Regions from separate parts of the Homo sapiens genome. Here region 2 is linked to region 1. Evidence: fine-mapped expression QTL. A gene starts in region 1. The other region holds a variant in brackets. All regions are shown on one strand. Distances are from middle to middle.

What was found. PIP is the estimated chance that this variant, and not a neighbour inherited with it, causes the effect.
Region 2: its variant is fine-mapped to the expression of BNIP3 in whole blood (INTERVAL, PIP above 0.99).

Annotation. Positions count from the first base shown.
Region 1 is chr10:131,977,154-131,985,479 of GRCh38, reverse strand. BNIP3 (BCL2 interacting protein 3) reads left to right here and starts at 3,557. Exons shown (of 6, transcript NM_004052.4): 1 at 3,557-3,719. The coding sequence starts at 3,674. RefSeq lists silencers at 2,887-3,006, 3,047-3,236, 3,287-3,586, 3,817-4,046 and an enhancer at 3,454-4,378.
Region 2 is chr10:131,893,874-131,902,199 of GRCh38, reverse strand. It overlaps PPP2R2D (protein phosphatase 2 regulatory subunit Bdelta), which reads right to left and starts at 1,192. Exons shown (of 9, transcript NM_018461.5): 1 at 1,045-1,192; 2 at 870-962. The coding sequence starts at 1,051. It also overlaps the pseudogene LOC100134362. RefSeq lists silencers at 383-432, 613-1,012, 1,083-1,592 and an enhancer at 1,833-1,932. The variant C/G (reference allele first, on the strand shown) is at 3,940.

The DNA of each region.
Region 1 (8,326 bases):
TCCACCTTCCCGGTCAATTCCAAAGCCCCCCTTTTTTGAATAAGGACTTTAGCCAAGGCTCTTCCTGATGCCTTGCCCCAGTTCTTTCCTAAAAATGTAGATTGGAGGAGAACTCAACAATGTACTCAAAGGTCAGACAAATCTCTGCTTAGATGTTTTGAAGGGTTTGTAAAAACCTTTAAATAATATTCTGGAATGCCTGTTAGCCTCCAAGATCATTAGAATGACTCCTCATAAATTCTACTTTCCTCAGTGGCTTAAGTGAGGGTTTGGTTACCTAAGTTAAAAAGATACCAGCTTAACCGGGTGAATATACAAACCCACAAATTAGTAAGCTATGCAGATCAACTTCCTAAGACAATTCAGAAGGAAGAAAAAAACTAAGGTCTCAAAGATTATGAATTTGCAACTACAAGAACTGACTAACCAAATGAGGCCTTTTAAGAAAAGACAGGGCCTCCTTCTAATGACAAAAGGGCTGTTTGCTTCTACTGTAAAAAGCCTGGCCATTTCAAAAAAGATTGTAGAAAATTTAACAGCAGGACCAGTGAAAAACCAGGATCCCACATGATGAACAGGATTGCTCTGATGATCGAAGGGAGGTGTTCCTATTTCTACTAATGCCTTAGGAGAAATGGACATTGCCATAAATGAAGAACAGACACATGCCCTCAAAGACACTGGTGCCACTCTTTTCGTCCACTTTAAGTTGTCTCCTTCCTTGGAGTAATGGAACTGTACAAACGGTAGGGTTATCTCATCAGCCTATCACTGGATACAAGTCCAAGCCCTTAGAATCCCAGGGCCCTCATTCTTTTCTTCATTCCCCCACCTCTCAGACATCTCTTAGGCAGACATTTTGTGTTGGAACGTCACAATGCATGCTTTCCTTCTCCCAAAAGGAAGAAATGGATTTAGGTTTAGAATGGAAGGAGCAAATGGAAAAACTACAGAATGAGAAATTACTGAAATTATAAAAATACAGATCAAACAACTTTTTTTTCAACTGGCACTAATGACACGGATGGCTTAGGGCAAGCTTTGTCAGACCACTTATGGTCAGAGTCTTCCACCGACATTAGTAAAATATATTCAGCCACTTTCATTAAAGTGGAAGTAAACCTGATTAATCCTTTACCCAATATCAGACAATATCCTCTAAGGCCTGAAGCAAATGAAGGAATAAGATCCGTAACAAAAGACTATATTAAAAGGGGTCTAATTATTCCTTGCGCCAGCATGTAATACTCCAATCCTTCTTGTAAGGAAGCCGAATGGGAAGAGCTGGTATTCTGTACAAGATTTGAGAACCGTCATCAACACTGTGATCCCCAGACATCTGGTAGTACCAAAGCCCCATCCTCTTTCGGCAGCTGGAAGTGAGACACTGTGACTCATTTATGTAGTGCCTTCTTTAGTATTCCAGTGGACCTAGAGTCAGTATTTGTTTGCTTTTACTTGGGATGACTGCGAGCATATCTGGCCTATCAGGAAATATTGCTGATGAAACTGCTGCCTCCATCACAGCCCAACAAAAAGCTACTGACTCACTGGCTAAGGCTGCACTGGACGACTGCATTGCTTTCGATTATTAGCTGAGCAAGCAAGTCTATGTATGGTGGCAAATACCTCTTGATGTGCATAAACCCTTTCCACGAAGTAGAAACTCATATGGGAAAAAGTACAAGCCACTAGGCTACACTATTCTGAACAATTCTCCATTTGATTTTCTTCGTAATACTTTTAGTTGACTCCCTCGAATAGGTTCCGTTTTTCATTCTGGCATACACATTCTCTTTTTCATTGTAATCCTTATGTGCACCGTACTTGGTAACATTTTTGTTTTAATAGAGATGGAGTCTTTCTGTGTTGCCAGGTTGGTCTTGAACTATCAGGCTCAAGTGACCCTCCTGCCTTGGGCTCCCCAAATGCTGGGATTACACACAAGAACCACTGCCTGGCCAGCACTACAGTTCTACTATCGAAATTATTAATGCTATGCTATGTATCTCTGGCGGTTTTTTTTTTTTTTTTTTTGAGACAGGGTCTCACACTGTTGCCCAGGCTGGAGGGTAGTGGCCTGATCATGGCTCACTGTAGCCCCTACCTCCTGGGCTCAAGGAATCCTCCCACAGCAGGTGCCACCATACCCAGCTAAGTTTTTTGTATTTTTTTAGGGGAGAGAAAGCGTTTCGCCATATTGCCCAGACTGGTCTCCAACTCCTGGGCTCCAGCGATCCTCCTGCCTCGGCCTCCCAAAGTGCTGAGATGAAAGACATGCGCCCCACACTGGCCTCTGGATGTTTGTTACTCCTGAGAAAACTAAAATCATGGCACTCCAAAGACTAGAGACGATTCAACAGGCAAGAGCAGGGATGAAATGCACGCAGCGACTGAGGTCTGGCTTCGCGGCTCTGTGACCCCGGTTCAGCTTCTGAGCGCCTGGTTCCTTGGCGGGACGCCTCCTCCTTTCCCGCAAGACCAGACACGACTGTCTGGGAAGCAGCGTTTCTGGGGCGCACCTTGACACTTGGATTTGGATCAACAATGCTTTCAAGAAGAAAGACTTTTGATCAAAAGCGGGAAATGAGAAAGCGACTTTCCTCTGAAAAGTGCCTCCCAGTCCCGAGGCTGCGAGGCCCCCACGCCAGGCTGGCTCCCACGGAAGCCGGGCACCCACCCGGCCCGACCAAGCGCCACTCCGCCCCGTGGACGGGGCGTCCCACCCCGGGGACGCCCGCCCCACACCGCGTTTGCACCCCGGAGGCCCCTTGCCGCAGAGGCGGACGGCGCGCCTCTCCCGGGCCCCTGGGGTCCGCGCCTCCCTCGGGCAGACTCTTTCGACTCTGCTCGAGCCTCCGCTTCTTCCTGCGGGCGGACGCCCCGGACACAACGGGCCCCGCTGTTCACGCAGGGGCGCCCCGGCGGGGCGGGCAAAGACCCGGGGACGCGGTCCCGTCCCGAGACGCTCAGCTCCGGCCCACCGCTCGCAGCTCCCGCCCCGGGCGCAGGTCCCGACCCCACGGGCCGTCTCGGAGCCGCAGCGGCCGCTTCCCTGCACGTCCTCACGCCCCCCGCACGGACGCCGCCAGCCCCGCGCCTCAGTTTCCCCACTAGCAGGATGGAAAGACGGGCCCCGCCCCGAAGCGTAGCGGCGTCTCCGTGGTAGCCAGTGCCCAGAGAGTCCGCCGGTCCCACCGCCCCTTCAAAGGAGAACCCGGCCCACCGCCCGCCGCGGCGGCGACCGCGCAGCCCACTCGTCACGCGGCCCGCGGCGTCCAGCCCGGGCCGGCTCACCTCAGGCGGTCGCTGCCGCCCTCGCGCCTGCGCGCCCCTCGCCCCGCCCCTCTCCCCGCCCGCGTCCCGCGCACCGCAGGCCTCTGCCCCTCGCCCACCGCAGGACCCGCCCCGCGCACGCGCCGCACGTGCCACACGCACCCCACGCCCCTGCGCACGCGCAGGCCCCAAGTCGCGGCCAATGGGCGACGCGGCCGCAGATCCGCCCGGCCCCGCCCTGCCCTGTGAGTTCCTCCGGCCGGGCTGCGGGGCTCCGCTCAGTCCGGGAGCGCAGCTGGGCCGCGGCGCTCCGACCTCCGCTTTCCCACCGCCCGCAGCTGAAGCACATCCCGCAGCCCGGCGCGGACTCCGATCGCCGCAGTTGCCCTCTGGCGCCATGTCGCAGAACGGAGCGCCCGGGATGCAGGAGGAGAGCCTGCAGGGTGAGGCGGAGGAGGCGGCGCGGGAGCCGAGGGGGCGCGGGGGGGAAGCCTGGGGAAGGCCAAGAGGGCGCCAAGGGGAGGTTGCCGGGGAGGCCTAGGGGGCATCGCGGGCCGGGCGAGGCTGCGCCATCCTCCCCTTCCGTACCCACCCCTCCTGCGGGCATGCGGAGCCCGGGGCGTGGGGACCCCGCGTACTGCCCGGGGTTCGCGGCCTCGCCACTCGGGCGGGGGTTGGCTTGGACCCGGGTCGGACCGCACGGGAAAGCCCCGATTCTCCAGCTCCGCGCGAGCTAGAATTCCACCTGGAGGTGAATCTGCGTCTCGCAGTTGGACCGAACAGCCTCAAAGTCCACGTTGCCCTCCGCGGTCTGTAGTTCAGACCAGTATTGGTTTTAATGACCAAACACCAAGGCGTGGCAAGTGGCCTGTTATGAGCTTTAATTTTGTTATTAATGTTTATATCCATGGTGACTGTTAGGATTTCCTCAAGGGTGAACGCGGAGATGGGAGGGGGTTACAGCGTTTTTAAAATATGGCATTAAATGGGCATGTTCCAATTTCACTAGAGGGTCGTTCCAAAACAAAGCTTTAAATGACTTACGGGTTAAGAAAACACAAGCAAAAGGACGCTGCCCGTGCAGCACTCAGTCGTTACAGCCTGCCTAATGCCCGAGTAGAGGCTCGCTGTGTGCCCTTGGCTAGATTCGCAAGACCATCCGTTCACGCAGCGGGAAACGCAGGCCCGGGGTGCAGGACTTGCCCCACGCACAGCCGGGTGGCGTGGAGACCCACCCCACCCGGTGGGTCCGCGTCAGAGTCCAGACGAGCCTTTGCTCAGGGAAGCGGGCACTGAAGCCGCCTTCCCAGGGTCCCTAGGGCCAAAGCCTCGGAGGAGGGACCTGGTGGCAGCTGACCTTTGTGTTCTTTGAAGCCAGAGTTTACTAAGCAAAATTAGCATGTAAATAAGCTTGGGAAAGGACTGCTGAAACCTCTGACAGTGAACTTTTAATCTTCATTGAGAGTTTTTAAAACCATATATTCACATAAATTTAGTGAGTTGCTAATTTTATTACAAAAAAAAAGATTTTACTAGGCAGGACTTAGTTACCGTAATATATTGAATAATATATATATATACATATGAACACTACAAGCTTTTTTTTTTTACCTTTTTTTTTTTTTAAGAGACGGGGTCTCACTGTGTTGCCCAGGCTGGTCTGAACTGGGCTCAAGCGATCCTCCCGCCTCGGCCTCCCAAAGTGCTGGGATTATAGGCCTGAGCCACCAGGCGCGCCTGGCCTAAAACCATATTCTTTAAAATCCTGTAATTCGGATTTTTCCTCTTGAAATTTAAACATTGGCTAATTACTATTTTGAAATAGATTAAGAGGTGTTTTCCTATCTTTTGTCATAAAATAAAGTCCAAGGGATGTTTTTATAAACTCTTTGCCATAAAATCACCCATTTTCCGGTTGTGAAGCCGCGTTACTCCTGACATTGTGCGTTTCACTGTCCGGCTGGGATCTGGGCGCTGGGAGGTGGAGGGGGCTCCGGGGGGCTCGGTCCTCTCTCCAATATGTAACTTACACAGGCTGCTGAGTCATTGGCAGTGCAAGGCGGCCAGCGCCGGAGTTACGAGATTTTTGTTTTTCTGTTTTGTTTATTCTATAAAAAGATAGTTACCCGCGGGGTGGATCCCATGTAGGCGATTCCTTGGGCCGCCCTGAGTGTCCGCGCGGCAGGACGGGGCCACTGTGGGCTCGGCGTGGGCGGGGTTGGCCGGTCCCGCGGGCTCCAGCTGCCTGCAAATCCGGGACGGAGCGGTGGCTCAGGCAGCGCTCACCTCTGCCTGTCCGATTTCACTGCCCCTTGTTGACCTCGGAACAGAGAACAATGGGAGCCTTGCAGCCAGACCCACGGATGGAAGCAGCAAGCACTCTCTCCTCTGAGTGTACCCTCTGGGGCCAACTGCTTTTCCTAAAGAGTTAATGGCAAAATGGGCTGATTCTGTTCCTTTCTATCTCTTGATCATTCTAGCTAAAGTTGTTGACTCGCAGGATGCTCGTATTTGTCCTTTTCCTTTTTTTTACAAGCCCAGTCTTACTCCCCCAGGCTGGAGTGCAGTAGCACAATCATTATAGCTCACTGTAGCCATGAACTTGGCCCTTTTCTCCTAGACATGTCACTGCTAACATGCAGGAGAGGTAGGATTCTGTGACGAGACCGTGTCACGGTGGCGGGGGCATCACTTCCTTGAAGGACCCACTGTCTTCACCAGGAGGGCATCAGTTCAGTAAAGTGCATGCCCATTTACTCTGGAGGGCCGTGTTTAATAATCCAAGCCCTCACCTCTTCACCCACTGCTGTGTCTGCAACTGGCAGATGGTTCTCTCTCTTGTCAGAGGCAACTCACCATGGGCAAAGTTGTATGAGGGGAAAAGATGTTTTCTACTTATTTTGGAGTGGAGTTGTAGCATTGTGTGCTTTGAGACCTGAAGGGGTTGCAGACATCGAGATTCTCGTCCAAGACTTGCATTTCATAGATGGTCACAATGAGGTTCTAGAGGTGGAGTGAAAGATAAGGCTGGCAACAACACTTAAGGAGAAGCCAAGGTCTCTGCATGAGGCAGCAGTGGGATACCTGGAGCCCAGATGCCTGAGGCTGCGTGCAATAGGCCCTGGAGGGTCCTGGAGGAGAGGAGGCCAGAGGTCCTGGAGGCAACAGGAAGGTGGAGGGAAACGAGCCCCGTTGGAAGCCAGGGACCTGATTTACCTACCCAGCTGACTTGATACTTGAAATCTTTTGTCAGGCGGGTCTCTTTTGTTCTCTCCCCACTAACCTGAGAAGCTTTAAAGGTAAAACAGCAATTTCTTAGAGCCCACCTCCCCTGGGGAAGAAGCCCTTTGTATGGTTTTGGGGTGCTAGTTCCCTCGGGGGTTCACAGCTCCTCTGCTTCAGGTTTTTTTTCTGGGATGCTGCCTCCCTCTGTTCTGACATTTATCCCAGAGCTTTTTCAATCTATTTGCCTGGATTCCACCCCAGCATCCCAAATAGTCACTTTCAGAGTGGGCTGAGGCTAGGCTTTTGGAGAACAATGAAAAAACACCACAGGTGATTCTCCCTTCATAGCCAGAGTTGAGGTTGTCACCCCAGGTTAGGGCATAGGGTGGCCTTGAGAACTTGGCCCTGTGTTTACTCCACGTGGGGCTCGTGGCTGTGGCCCATGAATCCATGTTGAGGAATGGGACCCAGGGAGTTGCCCTGGGACATACAGAGGGCAGTGAATCGAAGGGATTCCCTGGAGTCTGTCACTGGAGGGAGAACTGCTTTGGGCACCTAGAAAAGCTGGATGTCAGATGATTTTTTTTTTTTTTTTTTACACAAAGTGAGAATAAGAAATGGATTAAGAACTCTTGTTGGACTGTATTTTGTCTCTGAGGCAGACCTATCAGTTTTCTTTTTGTACTGTGATATAAATATTTATAGTCTAGGCTTTTCAAAATCTCATCTACCTTGATATAGGAGGGAGGTAAGATTTACTGGCTGTGTGTCTTGTTAGCAATGTAAATTATAAGTGAGTGAGGAGGGGGAGGAACATGAGAGGGACGCGAAATGAGATTAGGAAGGAGGGCTTTTCTTGCAGCAGCAACAGCAGCACCTTTCCGTCTGGGGCCTAATTATACTACAGTGATTTGAAGTGTAAACTGCTTGTGATTATGAGCAAGTTTTCTAAGGTTATTAAGCAACCTTACTGTAAGCCCATCTTTCTTTGAAAAGGTGAACGATCCGAGTGGAGAACTGTAACACGTGAGTAGATACACAGCACGCTCCATTCTCCAGGAAGTGCCTTCCTTTCCTACGCGGTTGCTGTGGGTTAATAATAAAACTCCTGTCCCTTAGTAAATCATTCCTGGGAATACAGCTTTTGGGCCCAAAGTCATTAGCCATGGACAATCTGGAGTGAGTTTTTTTTCCTTGTTTCCTGGATTTTTAGGTCCTTTCTGGGGTGATGTTTAAAAAGCACTGCTTTGGTTCGAATGTGTTCCTCCATGTTGCCAGTGGGATGGTAGTAAAAGGTGGGCCTTTAAGAGGTGGCTCGGCCATAGGGGCTCCTCTCTAGTGAATGGGATTAGTGCTCTAAGGGGCTGGATGGAGGGAGGTGGGTCCCTCTGTAGCCTCATTGAAGGGATGAGGCAGGAAGGCCCTCAGCCGACACCAGATGTTGGTGCGTGGATCTTGGACTTCCCAGCCTCCAGAACAGAGATCAGTTTCTGTTCGTAAATCACTAAGTCTGTGGGATTCTGTTGCAGTAGCGCAGAGGATGACAGAGATACACTTGTCTCTCCTTCATCTTCCTCTCCCTGTTGTCTTCAGCCTGCCCCTTGTGTGATAGATTACAGTATGTGTTTGGTCTTGACCCTACCTACTTCCTGGTGCAGAGCACCTAAACCCCTGGGGCTTCCTGAGCAGTGTCTTTTTTTTTTGTTTGAGACACAGAGTTTCGCTATTGTTGCCCAGGCTGGGGGGCAGTGGCATGATCTCGGCTCACTGCAACCTCCCCCTCTCAGGTTCAAGGGATTCTTCTGCCTCAGCTTCCCGAGTAGCT
Region 2 (8,326 bases), 83 kb after region 1:
ACTCTGAATCTGAAATATTAATCAAACTTCTAAGACTCGACCAAGTTCTCCATTCAACGGTGAAAAAGGAAAGCTACATAGCTTTTTAACTTTAAGGTGACAGGTAAGCTTCATGGGAAGCTGGGGTGGGAGGCACTTCCCAGTTCCCTCCCACCACCCTAAAACTTTGTGCCTGGGCCAATTTGAGAGTATGATTTAAGGAAAAGACCAGTGAACTTCAAGTAATACCATGAAGTTCAAGACTAAAATCTGGAATAGAGACCTTAAAATATATCAGTAGAGAAAGTAGCAGTACCTCACAGTAAAATTCAAGGATTTTAGAACCGCAGAAAGCAGACCTTAAGAATCAGGGAGCCGAGGCAACCAGCTCGCTCAAGAGCGCACCGCCGATGAAACGCAGAGCCTGGTGGGGGCCGAGGCCCCGACCCAGCCCTAGGCGCGTTCCCAGCCTCTGGGCCATTGTGCCGCGCTGCCCGAGCGCACGATATGGACTCCGTTCCCGTCCCCGGCTCCGCCGCGGTCTCCTCAGTTCCGCCCCAGGCAGGAGGCAGCCCCGGGCTTCGGTTCCGCCCCGGGCAGGAGGCAGCCCCAGGCGCTGGGTTCGGAGGACCCGGCCGCCCGTGACCTTGGTGACTTACATAAGTCCCGCCGCGGGCCCGACGCCTCCGCCCGTGCCCCGCGGGCCGGGACAGCGGACAGAGGACGGCCGCCCCCCGATCACGGCCCCCAGCTCGGCCCCTGGCCCCTGCCCCGCCCGGCCCCCATCCTCCTGCCTGCCTTCCACGGACGCTTGGGGCCCGGAGGCCGCGCGCGGCCGGGCTGGGAGCTGTCCGCGAGGGTCCCGGGGCGGGGCGCGGCGCGGGGCTCACCTTCGGCCACGTCCTCGTCGATGGCCCCCTTGACCTGCGAGAAGCACCACTGGAAGTCGTTGCCGCCCGCGGGGCAGCCGCCGCCTCCGGCTCCTGCAAACACAACGGGGCGGTCAGGCCGGCCGCGGCCCCCGCCCGCCCCCGTGGTCCCCGCCGGCCCGCGCAGACCCCTCACCTGCCATGGCAGCCGGCGGCGGGACGGGCGGGGACCGCGGCAGACCAGGGAGACGGCCTCCGCGCCGCTGCAGCCGAGCGCTCAGCCCCGGGGCCGCCACCACCGCCGGCGCCGCCGCCGCCGCCGCCGCCGCCGGGGAGGGATTTTTTTCCCTTTTCAAAATGGCGCCCAATGCCCGTCGCCCCGCTCGATGACGTCATCGCCCTCCGCCTCCTCGGACGGGCAGCGGACGGGGCGGGCCGCGGGGGCTGCCGGGGGCGCCCAATGCGCCTGCGCCCGGCGCCGCTCGGCTGTAGGGGGGAAGGGACGCCTGGGCGACTGCGGAGGGAAGCCGGGGTCGCCGGGCGCAGGCCAGCTCCTCGGCCCTCGGCCCTAGGCCTCCCGCAGTGGTCCGGTGTGCACCCGGCGCTCCCCAGAAGACTAGCGCCGCCGGCCGCCCCTACTCTCCGGGGACTCCCGGAGAGCCTAAGCTGCGGCCGGACACGCCTTCAGGGCGCCGCTTGGCCGGACACGCCCCCATCCCGCATCGGCCAATGGAAACGTGGGTTCTCCGTGGAACCGCCAATGGAGGACGCGCTTGGCGGCGGTGGGCGGGCATGTGGGCCGGCCTCACCTGAGCGCGCCGTACCTGAGCGCTGCCTCCCGCCCACTGCCCCCGACGCGGAGTCTCGCTCTGTTCCCCGGGCTGGAGTGCGGGGGCGCGATCTCGACTCCCTAAAAGCCTCGACCTCCTGGGCTCAATCCATCCTACTGCTTCAGCCTCGGAAGTAGCTGCGAGCACAGGCACGCGCCGCCAGGCTCGCTGATTTTTAAATTTTTTGTAGAGACGGGGGTCTATGTTGCTCAGGCTGGTCTCGAACTCCTGGGCTCGAGCCATCTGCCGGCCTCGGTCTCCCAATCCTGTCCACCTCCCTTTCGGAGCGCACCGTTGCTCACCAGATGGCTACCTTAGGGGTTCTTGGAGCTCCCAGTGCAGTCTTAGGGAAACAGGGCCGATCGTTTCATTTGCGGGTGGTTTTCTCTGGCATACTGAGCGATCATGGGTGCTCCTCGACTTACAGTGGGGCTACCCTCCCCGCAAATAAGCCCTTCCTAAGTCAAAAATGCATCTAATACCCAATCTACCCGTCGTAAAGTTGAAAAATCTGAAGTCGAGCTATCATCAGGGGGACTGTCCCTATGGGATTGATGTCCGGAATCAGAACTTCTTTCAGGGTAGCTGCGGTGGGCACTGATGGTATTGCACCACTAAAAGACAGTCGCTGCAAATCAGGAACATTCGTCCACTCCATTAATATTATTTATTGACAGCTCCTGCCACGTGCGGCACACTCCACAGCCCTGGGGGTGAGAGGTTAACAGAGCAGAGAAATCTCAGCCCTGGTAGAGCTTACCTTTCAGTGGGGGAGACAGACAATAAGGAAATAAATACATAATAAGTCGGAGCTGGAGAGAAAAATCAGGGAAGAAGGAAATGTGTATGGGGAGAGTTGGAGTCTTGCACGGGGTGACTGGAGAAGACTCAAGGATAAAGAGCAAACCATGCAGACGTCTAGGAAAGCTTGGCCAGGAAGGGGAGACCACCAAGTGCCAGGACAGGAAGGAGGGCCATGCCTGGCATGGGCAGGAGGCAGCCAGAAGCTGCGTGGGTGCAGAGTGAGTGGAGGGGAGGCCAGGGGTTGGAGTCAAGGCAGGGAGGTAAGTGGAGGAGGATGGACAGTGGGCAGGCCATTTAGGGGACTTGGACTCTGAATGAGATGGGCTCATGAACAGAAGACGATCGTGATGGACTTGGGCTTTTGGATGCTCTGCTGAGAATAGCTTGTGGGGACCCAAAGAGGGGAAGCAGGGAGACCAATCAGGTGGCCAGCTGGGCTGACCAGGCATGGGGATGAGGATAGAGTGGTGAACATGGGGTGGGGTGGTGAGAACCAGTCAGATTTCAGAGAAAAGTGCTTCGACAGCAGAGCCCCTGGGATTTGCTGATGGAAAAGATGCGGTGTGAGAGAAAGCAGGGACTTAGGAATGCCTGCTCTCGGGTGGTCTGAGCACCTGGAAGGATGGAGTTTCTGCAGCAGAAGGCACAGCTGGGTGGGGGCGGTGCAGCCCGACCAGAGGTTCGCTGTCAACACATAGTGCTGTTGCACAGACAGGCTGGGAGCACACAGGGAAGTCAGAGCCAGAGCATCAAGGTGAGAGCATTTAGAGGTCATTTCAAGTCAGGAAACTGGGTGAGGTCACCTCAGGAGGGAGGACAGATGGGGGACAGGACCAAGGACAGAGCCCTGAAGGGGTGAGGACGTGGAGGATGAGTGAGCAGCCTGCGAGGTGGGCTCCTGGAGAACCCATCTCCAGGATCCACTGAAGACAGGAGGGAGTGGCTGCTCTGTGATGCTATGTGATGAGTATACAGGAGTGACCATTTGGTTGTAGGGACTGGGAGGCCATTACTGACTTGGACGGAGCGGTGGCTATGGAATGGACTCAGATCACAAGTTTGCAGAGGGCTCTGGGGACAGTGGCAGGAGAGGAACTAGAGGCAGTGAATACCTACTTCTCTGTTGAGGAGAAGAAGAGCAGAAAAATGGGGCTGTAATCTTGTTTTTAAAATGTAGATTTAGCCTATCTGCCCAGGAAGACACTTGAAAACCTGAATTAATGACCAGATCTCTTTTATTTGTTAACTTAAAAACCTGACAATTTATAAATTTAGAAAAAGAGGAACTTTATTTCTTATAAATGGTTACAGCCAGCAAGGTGGCCATCCCCCAGGCCAAGATGGGAGATGGCTCTTCGTAGGAGGAGGAGTTGGGGCAGGAGCTCTATGCTGAACGGGTTGGCTAAACATACATAGACAACAGGCTTTGGGAGGAGCTATGAATACTCAGGAAGGGG[C/G]TCCTGACACGTGTATTATGTAACATAGGACCCAATCTCACTCTGTCGGGGAGACTAAACATTTGAATATATTACGACTGTAATCCCAGCACTTTGGGAGGCCAAGTCTGGCAGGTTACCTGAGGTCAGGAGTTCGAGATCAGCCTGGCTAACATGGCGAAACCCCCTGTCTACTAAAAATACAAAAATTAGCTGGGCGTGGTGGCGCCCGTATGTCTGTAGTCCTAGCTACTTGGGAGGCTGAGACAGGAGAATCCCTCCAACCTGGGAAGCAGAGGTTGCAGTGAGCCGAGATCGTGCCGTTACACTCCAGCCTGGGCGACAGAGCGAGACTCCGTCTCTAAATAAATAAATAAATAAATAAATAAGTAAATTAGGACTAGGCCCTGTACCTCAAGAGGTCTTTTCAGGACAGGAAGGCATGCAGATGTGCAACCTCTGTAAACCGGCCAGAACCAGTCCAAGGTCGGTGGTTTCTTATCAGGAGACAGTTACAGTCTTCTGTCCAATGAAAGCTGTAGTTACGGCTGCTGGAGCAGGGCTGGGGGTCACTTAGTGGCTGGTGGAGCTGCAGTTGCTTAATGTTGCTCCTATCAAGGCCAGTGCTTATTTAGCTGCTGGAGGGAAGGAAAACCCAACAGCAGTGGGAACGACGTTTTCTCTGTAAGTGTGCGGTGCGTGGCTTCACCCTCCCCCCGCACGGCCTTAGGCCCTGTTTATGATTTGGCATCTTACTGCCACAGAGTCCGTTCTGTCAGTCTTATGGTCTCTAGTTTAACGTTAACGCTGGTCTGTTGTGTCCAAACCACAAAAGGGCGGGGGTATCAGGAGGCCTGTCTGACCTCCCATCCCCCATTATAGCCTCAGTGTTGAGGTTTTCCTGGGGCCCCCCCTGGCCACAGGGGTGTTCGTTCAGCCAGTGGGGGATGTAGGATTTTATTCTTAGTTCCTATGTAACTGCTTTAATGTGTGTTAAATATGTCTTTTGAAGTGATGACAAGATAATTAGTTTTTGTTTAGAATGTATTTTCTGGTTCATTAGCTCCCATTAAATTAAACTAAAAACAAGATATAGCCACAAAAGTAACATATTCCTGAGACTGGGGGGCTGCCTTCCCTGCGTCCCACTGTGCATCAGCTGACCAGCAAGAGATTTTTAACTATTTTTTAAAAAGAGATTTTTAACTATTCTTCTTATGATGCTAAAAACTTAAAATATTTGGCTAAACCACAATGACTTTTGCGCCAACCTAATAGCTCAATGAATTTCTCTGTTTGGATTCTAATTGGTGTTTACAAGTTTCTGAGTATTGACAGCAATTTTATTTTTTAAAATTGTTTTTCAGATCTCACAGCTGAATTGAAAATGCCTGGTGTGTATTAGAATCTAGCCTATTGTAATCATAGAAGGCAGTACTGTTCAGTAACTAAAAGGCATGAGCTACTACTGATACAAACAGCAGTCCCAAATGAGTCCCCGAAATATTACGAAAATGAAAGGAGCCAGACACGGAGGCGTGCAAGCTGCATGCGCCCCTTTATTTTATCATACTTAGTCTCATGTGTCAATGTAGCGAGGGTATAGTATGTAGTTATTTCATCAGAACTAAGCCAAGTATTGCCACGAGGGTGTTTCGTGGATGTGGTTAACACCCACAGGCAGTTGACTTTGAGAAAAGGAGATTACCCTTGATAATATGAGTGAGCCTCATCCAATCAATCAAAGGCCTTCAGAACAAATACTGAGGTTTCTTGGAGAACAAATTCTGCCTCCAGGCTGCTGTATCAGCCCTTGCCTGAGCTAGCCTGCCGGCCTGCCCTGCTCACCCTGTGCACCCTCTGTTTTTGAACTTGTCAGCCTCCACAATTGTGTGAGTGAGTTCCTGAAAATAAAGCTCATTCCATACACGGTTTCTCTGAAGAATCCTGAAGTTCTAGAACAGGTGAGACTGCTCTACAGTGATTTTAAAAATGGCACAGGGGCTGGGCGTGGTGGCTCACGCCTGTAATCCCAGCACTTTGGGAGGCCGAGGTGGGCAGATCACAAGGTCAGGAGTTTGAGACCAGCCTGACCAACATGGTGAAACCCCATCTCTACTAAAAACACAAAAATTAGCCAGGTGTGGTGGCGCACGCCTGTAATCCCAGCTACTCAGGAGGCTGAGGCAGGAGAATTGCTTTAACCTGGGAGGCGGAGGTTGCAGTGAGCCGAGATCGCGCCACTGCACTCCAGCCTGGTGACAGAGCAAGACTCCATCTCAAAAAAAACGGCATGGGGCACGAGTGTGGGGATTGACTGGAGAGGGTGGGGGATGGACTGGAGAGAGTGGGAAAGAACTCCCTGGGTTGATGGAAGTGTTCTGCATCCTGATGGCCGCAGCTGTTAATGCAGCACGAATGGTTGTCAAGACTCATTGAAAAAGACACTTAAAGTGGACCCATTTTATTGTATGTGAATGATACCTCAATAAAACAGATTTTTTTAAAGGATTGTTTTATTTTAATGGCTGATCTATGTAATCACGGAGGCCAGTATGTACGGACAACGGGGGAGCTTTTATTTTTTGGTATCTTCCTCCTTGGACAAAGTCTTGAAGATCTCCTCCTTCTTGACTTGGAGGCGCTCTTCACGGCGCTTGCGTGCTTCCTTGGTCTTAGACCTGCGAGCCTCAGCCTAGTCAGCCAGGAGCTTCTTGCAGGCCTTGTCTGCCTTCAGCCTGTGGCTGTGTTCCATGAGAATCCGCTTGTTCGTGAACATATTCCCCTTCACCTTCAGGTACAGGCTGTGATACATACGGCGATCAGGCTTCTTCGATTCACGGTATCTTCTGAGCAGCCAGCACGGAATCCTCATTCTCCTCATCCACGTGACCTCCTCTGGCATTCGGGCATTGGCTGTACCCTTTTGCTTACCTATGCCTATGTGCCTGCCCTTCCGGCGGGCCAAGGTGCTTTTCCGGCATCGAGCTGGAATGGACAGTCACTGGCTTGGGGATGATCAGCCCATCTTTGATCAGCTTCCAGATCTGCTGACGGGAGTTGGCATTAGCGAGTTCATTGGTCTCCTTGGGGTCCAGCCAGACCTTCTTCTTCCCACAGCGGAGGACACTAGCAGCGAGCCTCTTCTGAAGCCTGAGCGTGCTCATGGCTGCGGCCACAGCAGCAAAAGGAAAGAGCTCAAATGAATTATTTTAAAGTCTAACTTACCATAAATTTTCTTCAAGTCTATGAAGGACTTTATATCTTAAGAGTCTGCAAATCACACTTCCCCCAAATACCTTTATTTTAAAATATGTTTTATTTAATTTTCTTTTTTTAAATTATTATTATTATTTTACAGAGTCTCGCTCTGTTGCCAGGCTGGAGTGCAATGGCGTGATCTCAGCTCACTGCAACCTCCGACTCCTTGCTTTAAGCAATTCTCCTGCCTCAGCCTCCAGAGTAGCTGGGAACTACAGATGTGCACCACCACGCTCAGCTGATTTTTGTATTTTTAGTAGAGATAGGGTTTCACCATGTTGGCCAGGATGGTCTCTATCTCCTGACCTCGTGATCCACCCTTCTCAGCCTCCCAAAGTGCTGGGATTACAGGCGTGAGCCACCGGCCCGGCCTTTAATTTTTATTTTTTTTGAGACGAAGTCTCGCTCCGTCGCCCAGGCTGGAGTGCAGTGGCGCGATCTTGGCTCACTGCAACCTCTGCCTCTCAGGTTCAAGGGATTCTTCTGCCTCAGCCTCCCAAGCAGCTGGGATTACAGGTGTGTGTCACCACGTCCAGGTAATTTTTGTATTTTCATTAGAGACAGGGTTTTACCATGTTGGCCAGGCTGGTCTCAAACTCCTGATCTCAAGTGATCCATCTACCTCGGCCTCCCAAAGTGCTGGGATTACAGGCGTGAGCCACCGCACCTAGCCTAAAATAATTTTGATTTATTTAGATTTCAACTACTAAATATTATTTGAAAATACCAAATGTGGATTATTTTCAATTTCAGACTTAGTAACAATCTCAGTGTTATCATAGATGTAGCCTATTGGTAGGATGTGCAATCTTTCCATGGAAAACAAACCACATTTAGAAGCTTGCTAATAGGAGGCGGAGGCACCCTGTCTGCCCGGCTTGTGGGCTGGCTGGAAGAGCAATGGCAGGAGGACCTGCACTGAGACTCTGTGATTAGAGGGGCACGTGCTGGTTTGTGTCTCTGACTTTTGACACATGGCTGCCTCGTACTGCTGGAGCCCGGCAAGGCGTTAGATGTCATCCCATCATTCTTCTTTCCTCCTGCCAGAAAAGATCCGATCCTCATATTTTTGTCACATGCTGAAGGAAGGGAAGAAAGATGGGAAGAAATGAAGGAACAGAAAAAAGAAAGGGAGGTAGGAAGAGAG